Regions from separate parts of the Homo sapiens genome. Here regions 2 and 3 are each linked to region 1. The links come from fine-mapping of genetic effects on gene expression. A gene starts in region 1. Each other region holds a variant in brackets. All regions are shown on one strand. Distances are from middle to middle.

Region 1 (4,231 bases):
AGGGAGGAGAATCGCTTGAAACCGGGAGCCGGAGGTTGCAGTGAGCCGAGATCGTGCCATTGCACTCCAGCCTGGGCAACAAGAGCAAAAACTCCATCTCAAAAAAAAAAAAGAGAGAGAGAAAACAGGACCGCAAAGTTTTCAAAATGGTTTATCAGGATGAAGTAAAATACAGATTTAAAAAAAAGGCAGATCACTCGTCTATAACATTATGGTGTACTAAAGTAAAAGAAAAACCCACTGGACTGATAAGAACTTTTGAGTTCTTTGTCCCACTTCGCGACATACTTTCTAGTCTTAAAATACAGTTAAAATAATAACTGGACACAAATTCTGTGTTCTTTGCATCTTTTTTTTTCTTTTTTCTGTGTGAACTCTGCTACAATTTTTTCCCTTTTTTTTCTGTGTTTGTATCTTTAAAAATGGTTATTAAAACCAGGGTTAAAGTCCCTTCCTAATCAATCATCCCTAAGACAACAAAAGTCCAGAATTCTAAAACAGCTGTTTCTAGATATAAAAATTCACCCACATACAAAATAGTGCGCGTTTTGGCTACTTCAGCCTCTTCCCTTCTCTAGAAATAACTCCTCCTTGTACTTAGTAAAGGCACACATTCACTTCAAGAGTAGGAAAATGTAAATGCTCTCTGCTCAGCGGCCGCAGCTAATTATTACTTCACACAGTAAGATCAGTGTTTGCTAAGTGTTATCAGCCAATGTACAGCACCCCCCAACACCGTCAAACGTTGTTCCAGTTATTTTACTTTAAAAGAGGATTTAAATAATGCGACGTGCTTTCCACTGAGCCACTAAGTAGGTGTGGACGCACAACCTTCAACACTAATTGCCCTTTACTAAGCCGACCAGGGCTAGACACTAAGCCAGAAAAGCCTTTTCCAGAGTTTCCTCTTCCGCACAAAAGCTTTCCTTCTGTCACTCCACCCAACCACCCAGCTCCTCCCTTAAGTGTTTGAAAGATAATTCTAAAAGTCTCCTCCCCCGAACCGCTGCGTTTCTTAAGGCCACACCATTTTAAAAATACTGTATTGCTTTTGCCAGGCTGTTGGGACCTCTTCCATCTCATTTCTATCTAAGAGTGGTTGGTACACACGAGGACCCCCTCCTTTCATTACCGCTTACAACCCACAAGTTTACTTTTCCCCATTGTAAACCTAAAGTCCCTGAGTGGCCCTTCCCTGTCCACTCGACAGTCATGCCCTGAGCCAAGAACTCCCAGGACAAGAGCCCTGCGCGGACCTCCGACGAAGAAACCGGGGTCCTTGCCCGCCCCAGCCACACAGCAACCGCGAGGGAGCACAGTAGGTGCTGCATCCACGTCGGTGCCGTTTACCCCTCAGCCAACTCCCACCGAGGCGGCTTCCTCCTCCTCGCTAGTGGGCTGGCCCTGGCGCACTGGAGCTCTTCCCTCAGACTTGGAGTCGCTTCCTCCCAAACCTCCTCCGGGGAGTCCCTGCCTCTCCTCGGCCCTCATGCGCCCACCCACGGTCCCAATCCTCACCGATCTCTTTCTCGTTGACCCTCGGGGGAAAGCTGGCCATCTATGGGGCACCGTCTGATTCCGGGAATACGATGCGGACCCAACAACAGAGAAGAGAGTGGCGACCGCTGAGGGGCGTGACGCCAAGTTGGTCCCTCCCGGGCCCAGGGACAGAGGAGACGGGCGGGGGCGGCCGCTGCGGCTTCTGCTAACTGCCTCGGGAAAGCTCCCGAAGGCCTCAGACCAAAGTACGGAGTCAACCACAGACAATAGACCCTGTACCCAGCCTCGCGCCTGCGGAGGAAGACAGTTCCCCTAAAGCGCCGACTGCAAACGAGACACTGGAGTCAAAATGGCGGGCGGCGCCGGAGATATCTGGGCGGCAGGGGCGCGGCCACGTGACGTCACAGCCCGAGGCCCCCGCCTCCCGACGCACGGGACGTGATCTCCCCGGCCCGGCGCGGGCGTTGCCTGGGGGCCTCGCAGGGGGAGATCCAGCCCAGGCTGGTTCCGCTGACTCTGCCTGTAGGCCGGTGGCGTCTTCTGGGCCTGGATGGTCTAATATGGAGTTTATAAGCTGAAGTGGCTTTGAAAAGGGCAAGCAGAGAATTGTATTATTATTAGCCTCCTAGCTTAAAGATTGCATGGAACTTAAACTGGCTGAACCAAAAGAACAAAAAGACATTTCAGGTTTTCACTCAATTTGGCCAACTCCCCAGCCCACAAGTAATAGGGAACTGAAGGATGCACTGATGAAAAAGACAGGATGAAAATTAACATCGTTGTGCACCACCTGTCCAGCTGCGATTGTTCAGACCTGAGCCAGCAGGTTTTAGGAAGGGCCGAGGGGAACGAGAAGGAGACTCGGGCGTGATCGCGCCGCACCGCGCCGCGGGGCCTCTCTGGACTGCCTTTGTCCTGGCCAAGATGGATCCCACTGTCCTGGCCAAGATGGATCCCACTGTGTCAGCTCAGAATTGGCCCTTCCTCCACCTTACCTGAAGGCCTCTGGGAGGCACCTAGTTGTCCACACATCAGACTGATAAATGTGTCAGTATCTGCTAGATGCCAGCTTGGTTCCCGGTCACAGATGACGTATTTGCATTTTAATGGCTTCTCGTGTGGACCCTAAACATTGCAAAGGCCTGGGGCGTATAAGACTGGGAATTCAAATATGTGGCAGATATTCATGGGACAGAGTAGAGTGTTGCATAGCCGCTTTTTTTTTTTTTTTTTTTTTTTTTTTTGAGACGGAGTCTCGCTTCTCCCAGGCTGGGGTGCAATGGCGTGATCTTGGCTCACTGCAACCTCCGTTTCCCGGGTTCAGGCAATTCTCCTGCCTCAGCCTCCCCAGTAGCTGGGATTTGTACAGGCATGTGACACCAAGCCCGGGTAATTTTTGTATTTTTAGTACAGAGGGCGTTTCACCCTGTTGGCCAGGCTAGTCTCGAACTCCTGGCCTCGAGTGATCCGCCCGCCTCAGCCTCCCAAAGTGCTGGGATTACAACGTGAGCCACCACGCCCGGCTGCATAGCCGCTTTTAAGAGATCTCAAATGATAACACTGTAGGGCATGTTTACTTCATCTTTTCTTTGCATGAGTGTATTAATTCTTCAAATAGCGAAATGTTTAATAAAACATCGCCCCTCCTTTTTTTTTTTTTTGGTTATTTATTTATTTTTTTTTTTGAGACGGAGTCTTGCTCTGTCTCCCAGAGCAGAGTGCAGTGGCGCCAACTCGGCTCACTGCAACCTCTGCCTCCCGGGTTCAGGCGATTCTCCTGCCTCAGCCTCCCGAGTAGCTGGGACTACAGGTGGCTGCCACCACGCCCAGCTAATTTTTTTCATCCTTTTAGTAGGGAGGGGGTTTCACGATATTGGCCAGGCTGGTCTTGAACTCCTGACCTTGTGATCTGCCCACCTCGGCCTCTCAAAGTGCTAGGATTAGAGGCGTTAAGCTACTGCGCCCTGCCTGCCCCTCGTCTTTAAAAAAAAATCACTTTGTTAGGCTGGGGGCGGTGGCTCACGCCTGTAATCTCAGCGCTTTGGGAGGCTGAGGCGGGTGTCAGGAGTTCGAGACCAGCCTGGCCAACATGGTGAAACCCCCATCTCTACTAAAAATACAAAAAATTAGCCAGGCGTAGTGGCGAAGTCCCAGCTACTCTGGAGGCTAAGGCAGGAGAATTGCTTGAAACCGGGAGGCAGAGGTTGCAGTGAGCTGAGGTTGCACCACTGCACTCTAGCCTGGGTGACAAGAGTGAAACTCTGTCTCAATAAATAAATAAATCAATAAATCACTTTGTTAGCTTCAGTCAACGATATCTTGAGGACTCACTCTGTATCAGGCACTGGGCCTAGTTGCTGAATTTTTAGAGTAGAACAAAAGAAAAACTTTAATGCAGTCTTGTAGCTCATGTACCAACATTCATATCAGTCTGAGTTAATTCTTTTAACCAACTGCTATTATCCCTGTTACTTGTACTATACCATACAAATTCATGGGAAATACCAGTTTTTGAGTGTCCAACAGTGAATTATTGTGATGACTTTTTCTTTTTTTTTTTCTCCCTGAGATGGAGTCTCACTCTGTCGCCCAGGCTGGAGTGCAGTGGCACGATCTCGGCTCACTGCAACCTTTGCCTCCTGGGTTCAGGTGATTCTCCTACCTCAGCCTTCCGAGTAGCTGGGATTACAGGCACACGCCACCATGGCTGGCTGATTTTTGTATTTTTAGT
Region 2 (4,231 bases), 170 kb before region 1:
GCCAACACGGCAAAACCCTATCTCTACTAAAAACACGAAAATTAGCTGGACATAGTGGGGCATGCCTGTAATCCCAGCTACTCAGAAGCTAAGGCAGGAGAATTGCTTGAACCTGGGAGGCTGAGATTGCAGTGATCCGAGATCATGCCACTGTACTCCAGCCTGGGCGACAGAGTGGGACTCTGACTAAAAGAAAAACAAAAACAAAAACAAAAAACAAAACAAAACAAAAAAACCAGGAGGTTGGATGGGCCAAGGGTTCAGTGGGGTTCCCAATGCAGGGTCCTGCAAGCTGTGCTACTAAAGTCATTACTGTGCCCTGCCTGGCTCCTTCACTAGACTAGAACTGTCCCTAGACCCCAAAGACTGGGAGAACAGCCCACCTACTTCAGAGCCCTTGCTAGGTGGCTGCCAGCCAGGTAAGCACATCAACAGTAACTAAAGGTCTGTCCAGGGAACGTGCCTCAACACACCCTAAGGACCCAATCTGCAGGAATGCCACCCCTCCCCTCTCCCAGCAGTTCCATCATCAGATGCTCCTGGGAGGCATAGGGAGAGCTCAGGTCCCCCACACGGTGGGACTCTGACCTCTGCCACGGCAGAGCTGTGTGAGGGCCAGGCCTCTCTGACCTTCCAGATGGCAGGAGGGCCTCCCCTCTGACCCCCTGCGGCTCCAGGGCAACTGCTCAGGAAAGCAGCCCAAGGGCAGAGACTGTACCTACCACAGTTCCCAACATCGCCTCCCAGCACAGCCTGACTCTGCACCTACCACAGTTGCCAACATCACCTCCCCCAGCAAAGCCTGATGGTCAAAGTCCTTCAGCCCCTTTCTCCACGCCAGCTTGCTTAGGAGGGATTTTTCTCCACAAGAACACAAGGTGGGGAGACTCAGCATGGCAGAGCCTGTCTCTGGAAAGTACTAGTAGGCTGGCAGGAAAGGGCAAGTCACAATGTCCCTGGAACATAAATCTCCATGAGGCAACATGTGTCTGCTTCTACACACCCTTGTCTCCCCAGCGCTGGGCAGATTCAAAGGAATGAAGGTAATTATTACTGGCATAGGTTGCAGGCCCAGCTATTAGGCAGGCCAAGTGTCCCTCTGTGAGTACACTGGGGCATAAGAACATTCCCGTTTGCCTCGGTGGAGTTTTCAGACCCCTAGGAGGGTCTAGCGGAGACAGAACACCAGCTCCTGCCAGGATGAAGTAGCCTCACAACTTCTGTTTACAGATTAATACCCTGGTTTCAAATTGTGCCTCCCTCCCTTTATATTTAGAGAGGGAAAATGTGTATGATGAAAACTGCTGATCTCCAGGAACGTGTGTGAGTTTGAGAAGAGTCAGGCACGCTGCTAGGCACACAGGCAGCAAACGTTAAGTCTCAGCTCCTTCTACCCTTTTCCATCCAAACTGGACCACCACACAGAGAAAAGCTATCCCCGGACAACCAGACACGCTGACCCACTACACCCCATCACAACCCAATTTCAGGCAGCAGCAGCCCATCCCTGGTCAGGGACCTCCACGGACATTTCACGTGCTGCTTCTCCCACTGAGTGTTTATTTAATGAAGGCCAGAGTGAGCTGGGGCTCCTCAGATTCTAGATAAGTCCGATGCAGTTGCACAGGCCAAGCCCTCCAGGTCAGATCCTTCTTCAAAAGCCAGGAATCCAGTGTTGCAAGCACAGTCTCTGGGGCCACGGCCTGGTGTGTGGGGAGCCCACAGAACAGGAAAGAACGCTGGAGTGGACACTGCCACTTGCCTGCCTGGCCCCAACACATGCTGCTGGCGGTGGACGGTCCCACCCAGCTTGCTGAGATTGTTTCCTGGCTTGTGTCACCCACCTGTATGAAATGAGAGGCAGCTGCAGAAGTACCTTTCCCTAAAATCCAGATTTACTGAACCCATAAAGTAGGGGGTTAAGTTTCCCTAGCAAGGGTCCAGTAGGGGTTAAGTTTCCCTAGTGGTGGCCTGTGCCATAAATGCTACTGGACCCTCACTAGGGGCAGCTGCCAGGCAGACTCTTTTCGTAGTATCAGCACGGACTGACAGACAAAATGCTGCAGGTGTGAGCAGTCTCGTTCCTATTTTACAGACAGGAGAGCTTGAGATTCAGAAGTCATGGGACTTGCCTAAGGTCACACAGACAGAACCCAGGCCCAGTATGAAAGCCATGGGGCTTCCTATTCACCACGCTGCTCCTATGGCAAAGATTCTTCTAATAAACTTAACCCCTATGTTATGGGTTCAGTAAATCTGGATTTTAGAACCATTCTTAAAGAGGGTTATTCTTAAACCAGGGTAGTATAAAAACAATCACAAACATTTGATTTCACCCAACCAAGTCTCCTTCTCTAACCTAGAGAATTTC[G/C]AGCTTCCAGAGCCCTCAGAGATCCACTCCAGCCTCCTTGTTTTGCAGGTGAGGAGGCTGAGGCCTCCGGGATGAAGTGACTCATCTAAACTAGCTGGTGGCAGCCCCATGGAACTCACTCCAGGGGTCTAAATTCCCATCCCCCAAAACAACCCAGGCCCTGCCTTTTCAGGAAGTGGAGTGAACCCGAATCCACATCACGGTGGGAAGAACAGGGAGCTGCAGATCCCCTGTGGGCCTTTGGATGGGTTCTCTGCTGCCAGGGATGATCGTCTAAACAAACACTCAGGAGGGAAGCCACTGAATAAACCAGCTCCAACACTTAAATAGCTGGATGCTCTGGGGTGTCATGAACGCCACACTGCCATCAAAATGAGGGACTCCGGAAGTTAGGGTAGGACAAAAGGCCATTCCAGAGAATGCACAGCAAGTGGTTCTCCTATATACACACTCTGGAAGCCAGGAGCACTTCAGAGCAACGTGGGGACAATCCCACAGAGGCCAACACAGAGAGCATTCTCCAAGCCCAGCAACACCGAAGTCCAACCACGCACACTCTGCCAGACAGCGACCCCTCCTCCCGGAACTGAGCCTCACAGGCCCCCTATTGTTGTCAGCTTAAAAACTGAACTTTGCTGAGCAAACACACTCAGCTGTGTTCAAAAAATCAGTTTCTCTCAATACTTGGAAAACTGCAGCATGCATGCAGAAAGGCCAGTTGTAGGGGGTTTTGTTTGTTTTTTAAGCAAAGCCTTGGTCAGTACAGCTTTAGCCAACTGTAATAAAAAATAATAATACCCAGCACTGACTGTATTCTTCCAATGTCCTGTGGTTTTATAGCTTTTAAGAAAATAAAACTGAGGGAGAGTCACCCCCGAGCATTTGGAATCAAACAAGGATTCGGCTTTGTGGCATGCCTGGAGGAAGGATTGGTCTTGTAATAATTACCGCGATCACAGAGGGCCTTATGACAGCTGGCAGAGGCAATTAGCAATAAGGGGCGGGGGGAGGGTTTGGGGGAGGAGAAATTGAGGATCTAATAAAACAAAACATCCCCAGACCTGCAGGAGGCCAGATGTGGCAGGGCAAGATGGTGAGAGGTTCCTTCTTCAAGACGGGGCAGCTATTAACTGGTCTGACGTTTCACCGCCCCGTCCCTGGCCAAAATCACATTCAGAATCCACTAGTTGCCCTCATTTGTGTATGGACAGGGTGCCCCAACAACCCTCGGGCTGGTTTTTCCAAATCCTTCAGATACTTCCCCAGCTATAATTTGAGAGAGGAAGGCCCGCATATCTTATTTCTTCTTTACACTCCAGACTGTCTCCATCAGAACCCTTTAAACAGTTTCATCTTCCCACCAAAGGCTTGCTTCCCAGCATAATCCTTCCTAAGCCTAAATCCAATCTTTGGGGGGAAGCAGGGGGAGTCAGCGGGTAATTATTAATACATTTTAAGCAGCGAGCCTCCGTGGCAACGTGAAAGGAAAGCACCAAACGCCTGAATAACAAAAATGCAGTTTCAGCAACACTTTTTGAAAAGGCGGCAGACAAGACCTGAGAGGAGAGGAAAGGAAGGGACAGGACGGCGTCTGGGGCGTGAGGGGAACAGGGGACGGCAGGCCTGCGATCACGCTTCAGGGGAACCTCCTCCGTCACCCTGGCCCACGGGTGCTCGGCTCAGTCACACGGGGAAAAGTCCAGCTTGTGACTCGGTGGGACAACGAGTCCTGCGGCCCCGCAAACTGGAAATGGGGTGGGGGCGGAGAAGGGGGGAAAGGGGATGTCCGCGCGCAGCCCACCCCGCACGGGCCCCTCGAGCCTCCATCCCAGTTCCCACGACGCACCCGCCCCACAAATC
Region 3 (4,231 bases), 48 kb after region 1:
CTTTAAATGGTTGAATTGTATGGTATGAGAATTACATATCAATAAAGCTGTTTTATAGAATAAATAAACAAACTCCCACACAGAGCCAGCAGCCAGCCTTCTTCTTGTTTCCATGCCAGGGATCTCGCTCCTATTTGCCCTTAATGTATCTTCCTGTTGACACCCAGCCAGCAAACTCATGTTTGCTCTGCGGTGACATCCCCAGGATGCACCAGGCCCTGGGCCTGACATTGTTCTGCAGTCCTTGCCAACTAGGTCAGCGTCAGGGAAGGCAAACAGCATATTTCAGAGGGTGACAACATAAGGGCGTGAGAAGCAGCCAGAGAGAGCCCCCCACCAGGCTCCCTTGGCCAAGACACTGGGGACCTGTCCTCTGGTTGAAACCTCCTATTCCTGCCTCCTCGACCCCCACTCCCCAGATGAAGGTGGATGCTACTGTGTGGGGCTGGAAATATAAAAGCACTTCCCCAGGGCAGTGATGGGCTCTGGGGAGCCATTGTGGTGGGAAGGAAGATAAGAAACACTTAACCTCAGAGAGGTTAAGCAACTTGCCTAAAGTTACTCTGCATTAAAGCTTTGAGTCACTTGCATGGCTAGAAGTTCTTGAGCTGGATTCTATCCTTTAAAAAAGATTCCAAATAACATATACATCCCATGGTAGGGAATTGGTTAAATTAATTATGCTCCAGTCACACAGTGGAATAGTATGCTGATGCTAAAAAGAGTTTGGCATGCTTTAAGTACTGATATGGAATTGTCACCAAGATGTGTTTTTAAGTGAAAAAAAGCAAGATGCAGAACAGTGTGTATAGTATTCTACTATTTGTCTAAAAGGAGGCAAAAGATACATATACAGTCATCATCCCTCCATATTCACAGGGCATTAGTTCCAGGACCCCTGCAGATACCAGTATCTAAAGATGCTCAAGTCCCTTATATAAAATGGCATAGTATTTGCACATCCTACTGTATACTTTAAATCATTTCTAGATTACTTATGATATTTTTATTTGTATTATTTTTTACTATTTTTATTTTTATTTGTATTATTTATTTGTATTTGTATTTTTTACTATTGTACTACTATTTTTATTGTTTTTTTCAATATGTTTTGATCTGCAATTGAGTGAATCCATGAACACAGAACTTGCAGATACAGAGGCTGTGGATACAGAGGGTCAACTGTATTTGTAATTGCTTGTGTCCAAATAAAGTATCTCTGAAAGGACACATAAGAAATTAATGACATTGGCCAGGCACAGTGGCTGGTCCCAGCACTTTGGGAGGCTGAGGTGGGTGGATCACCTGAGGTCAGCAGTTTGAGACCAGCCTGGCCAACATGGTGAAAGATTGTCTCTACTAAAAATACAAAAAATTAGCTGGGTATGGTGGTGGGCACCTGTAATCCCAGCTACTCAGGAGGCTGAGGTGGGAGAATACCTTGAACCTGGGAGGCAGAGGTTGCAGTGAGCTGACGCTGCAGCCTGGGCAATAGAGCAAAACTCTGTCTCAAAAAAAAAAAAAAAAAAAAAAAAAAAAGAATCACAGCTCCAATCAAGGAAGCAAAATTTTTCCAGAAGCTCCCAGAATTCTTTGGCTTATACTTCATTGGCCAACTATGTTATGTAACATTTTCAGCTGCAAGAATGTCTTGGAGAGAAAGTAATTTTCCCTCAGACTTTATGGTAGAGGGGGTGAGTATGGTGGCATGTCTGTGGTCCCAGCTACTCAGGAGGCTGAGGTGGGAGGATCAATTTAGCCCAAGAGGTCAACACTGCAGTGAGCTGTCATTGCATTGCTGCACTCCAGACTGGGCAACAGAGCAAGACCCTGTCTCAAAAAAGAAAAGAAAAGAAAAGAAAAATAATGAATAAATGAATGTCCCATGCTCTGAAGTCCATCCCCAAATCTCAAGTTAAGAGCCCTGCTTCCTAGGATGATTAAAAATTGAATCCTTTAATATTTGTCAAATGCTGTGCTAATCCTATCAGAAATTACTGGTGAGATTTGAGAAGGGGGATTGGTAAGGAGCATCCCTTTTCCTCAGTGTGAGTTCTAAACTATTGAGACATAAAGGAGTAAGATAGGTATGGATTGCAGTATCACCCTCATTGCTGATAAAGGCCCGGATTGAGGGTGTGGCTTAGATGAACCAGGCAACAACCAACATCCTAATGTCATACCCAGAATTAGACCCACCTGCCTGGTCATAGGCAGGACTCAGACATGCGGGCCTCACTGCAGGGCTGGCTGCATGACAGCTGTGCTCGCCAGCTGCCGATGGGAGGCCCCACCCAAGGGAAAGCAGGAGGCAGGCAGAGCCAGGCTTACACTGCCC[T/G]CTGCAGCTCACAATCACCTCCTCTTTCCAGGAGGGGCTTGCAGGAAGGGGAGAGGCCAGGAGGCTGTAACACTAACGGAAGAAACATACGGGAAAGGAGTCTTTTCCCAAATCCCCAAATTATCAAGATTGTACTGTTTCTGTTTCTCCACATTAAAGGAGATCACGCCAGCCACATTTCAGGGCCTGGTGCTCAAAAATAGTAGGTGCTTAATGCAAATCAGCCTCCTTTCCTCCTCTTCTCCATTCAAATTCTTTCTTAACCAGGGTAGGAAGAGATTAGCCTTCCCTTCCTCTTTAATGTACGGAGACTTCATTTCTCAATTTCTCTTCATTGCTCAATTTCTCTTCCTGTGTTGCAATTCCCCAAGCATGTGACTTTCATCTGGCAACCCTAGCCCTGTGCTATTGGGATAGTGGAGTTATGCCTCATGCGTCATGTTCCTGCACCACTAAGTCAAATTTCACTTAACAGACTCAGCTGCCCCTGCTCTGTGGAGGGTCTCCTCTCCCTTCCTCCTCTAGGACTCATCCATCTTCTTTATGCCCCACTTCCAACAGGTGGAGGACATTTATCTTCTTTTTGGAGCCACTGGGCATTTGAACTCCTTTCTCATGTTTGGGGGACTCCTACTTTATGATTGGATCGGGAGGAGGTCCTCACCTTCTACTAGAGAAACGGAAATGTTCCGTTTCCCCTTTCTCAGCCTCCCTTTTGCAACTACAGCCAGCGCATGTGACGAGGGCTGGCCAACCAGAGGGGCCTGTGCCAGACCTTAGGGGAGCGTGGGGGTTCTGAGGGAGGCCAGGACTCCCGAGAATGTCCACTGTGGATGGTCGGCAGTGCAGCACATCTGAATTCCTGGCACAGCAGGGGCCGCTGAGCCGGCTGGGGACACATCGAGGTTTCTCGGCACATAGGGTTTGGGTTCCGTCGGGGGGTGTTGTCCCTGACTGTGCAGCTTTAAACCTAGTTTTAGGGTCTTGTGGTGGTTCTGTGAGCTGCCTGTTTACCTTCTGATACATTTTCTTCTCCATTCAGGCAGTCGGTGTTTATAGTTTGTAGCTAGAAACAATGACAGTGAGGCCGTAATTGAGTCCCTGACTTGGTCTTCCAAGCCTGACGTTCCCACTGGTTCTCCCTTGAAGTCAGAGAATACTTCAAGAGTGCACAGGCCTCATCTCAGGAAGGACATGGGTGCGCTCACCTTGTCCTGCAGCCTCTCTTCCCCTTGGTGGTGGGGAAGGCGGTGCTGTGGACAGTGACTAACTCAGAATAGGAAACAGGCATATTGATCTTCATTTTGTCAAAATCAACCCAGTGACCTCAGGCAAGTCACTTCACCTCTCGAGATTTTCTCACATGTCAAATGGCCTGGGTGGAGATGCCAGACCCAAAGATGCCCCAATTTTAATACCGTGTCTGTTCTCGAAGCTGGAGTCTCATTTTACTACTTCAGCTTCATGGAGTGTTTTTGTTTATTTTTCCTGTAATTACTTATGGTAACCATAGTTCAAGCAACAAAGCTTGATGGACTATTACTTTTATTGCACCTGCCAGTCCTGGTTTCCAGCCCCAGACTCAGCTATGTCCCAGCTTTAAAAGTCCAAGAACCAGGACTTTGCAATAGAGGGATTACAATAATGTGCATTCGAACTATACCTGGGGACTGGGGGTTAGGAATTCTGTCTTGATACCACTTATGAAAGGTGTCCCTTTTACTTATGGCAGGTGGGTGGTTTATAGAACAAGCCCATTCAATCTCTTTGGGGCTTGAATCCTGGCTCTGAGTGGCTGTGAGTGGCCTTGAGTGAGTGACCTCATTCAGGTTCCCACATGCCATTTAATACTCTAACTCATGGAGTAGGGCTGACTTAACCTTCCCAAGAAGT

The links.
Region 2: its variant is fine-mapped to the expression of WSB1 in whole blood (INTERVAL, PIP 0.98).
Region 3: its variant is fine-mapped to the expression of WSB1 in whole blood (TOPMed, PIP above 0.99).

The regions. Positions count from the first base shown.
Region 1 is chr17:27,291,723-27,295,953 of GRCh38, reverse strand. WSB1 (WD repeat and SOCS box containing 1) reads right to left here and starts at 1,840. Exons shown (of 9, transcript NM_015626.10): 1 at 1,519-1,840. The coding sequence starts at 1,558. MIR4522 (microRNA 4522) reads left to right here and starts at 1,958; the gene lies at 1,958-2,044. RefSeq lists enhancers at 1,562-1,621, 1,632-1,691, 2,062-2,111 and a silencer at 1,812-2,021.
Region 2 is chr17:27,457,058-27,461,288 of GRCh38, reverse strand. All of the region lies in intron 1 of KSR1 (kinase suppressor of ras 1), which reads right to left. Among named protein-coding and RNA genes, the nearest start is that of KSR1, 2.7 kb to the right of the region's middle. RefSeq lists an enhancer at 458-1,161 and a silencer at 3,982-4,031. The variant G/C (reference allele first, on the strand shown) is at 2,372.
Region 3 is chr17:27,243,543-27,247,773 of GRCh38, reverse strand. No RefSeq gene overlaps it. Among named protein-coding and RNA genes, the nearest start is that of MIR4522, 48 kb to the left of the region's middle. The variant T/G (reference allele first, on the strand shown) is at 2,339.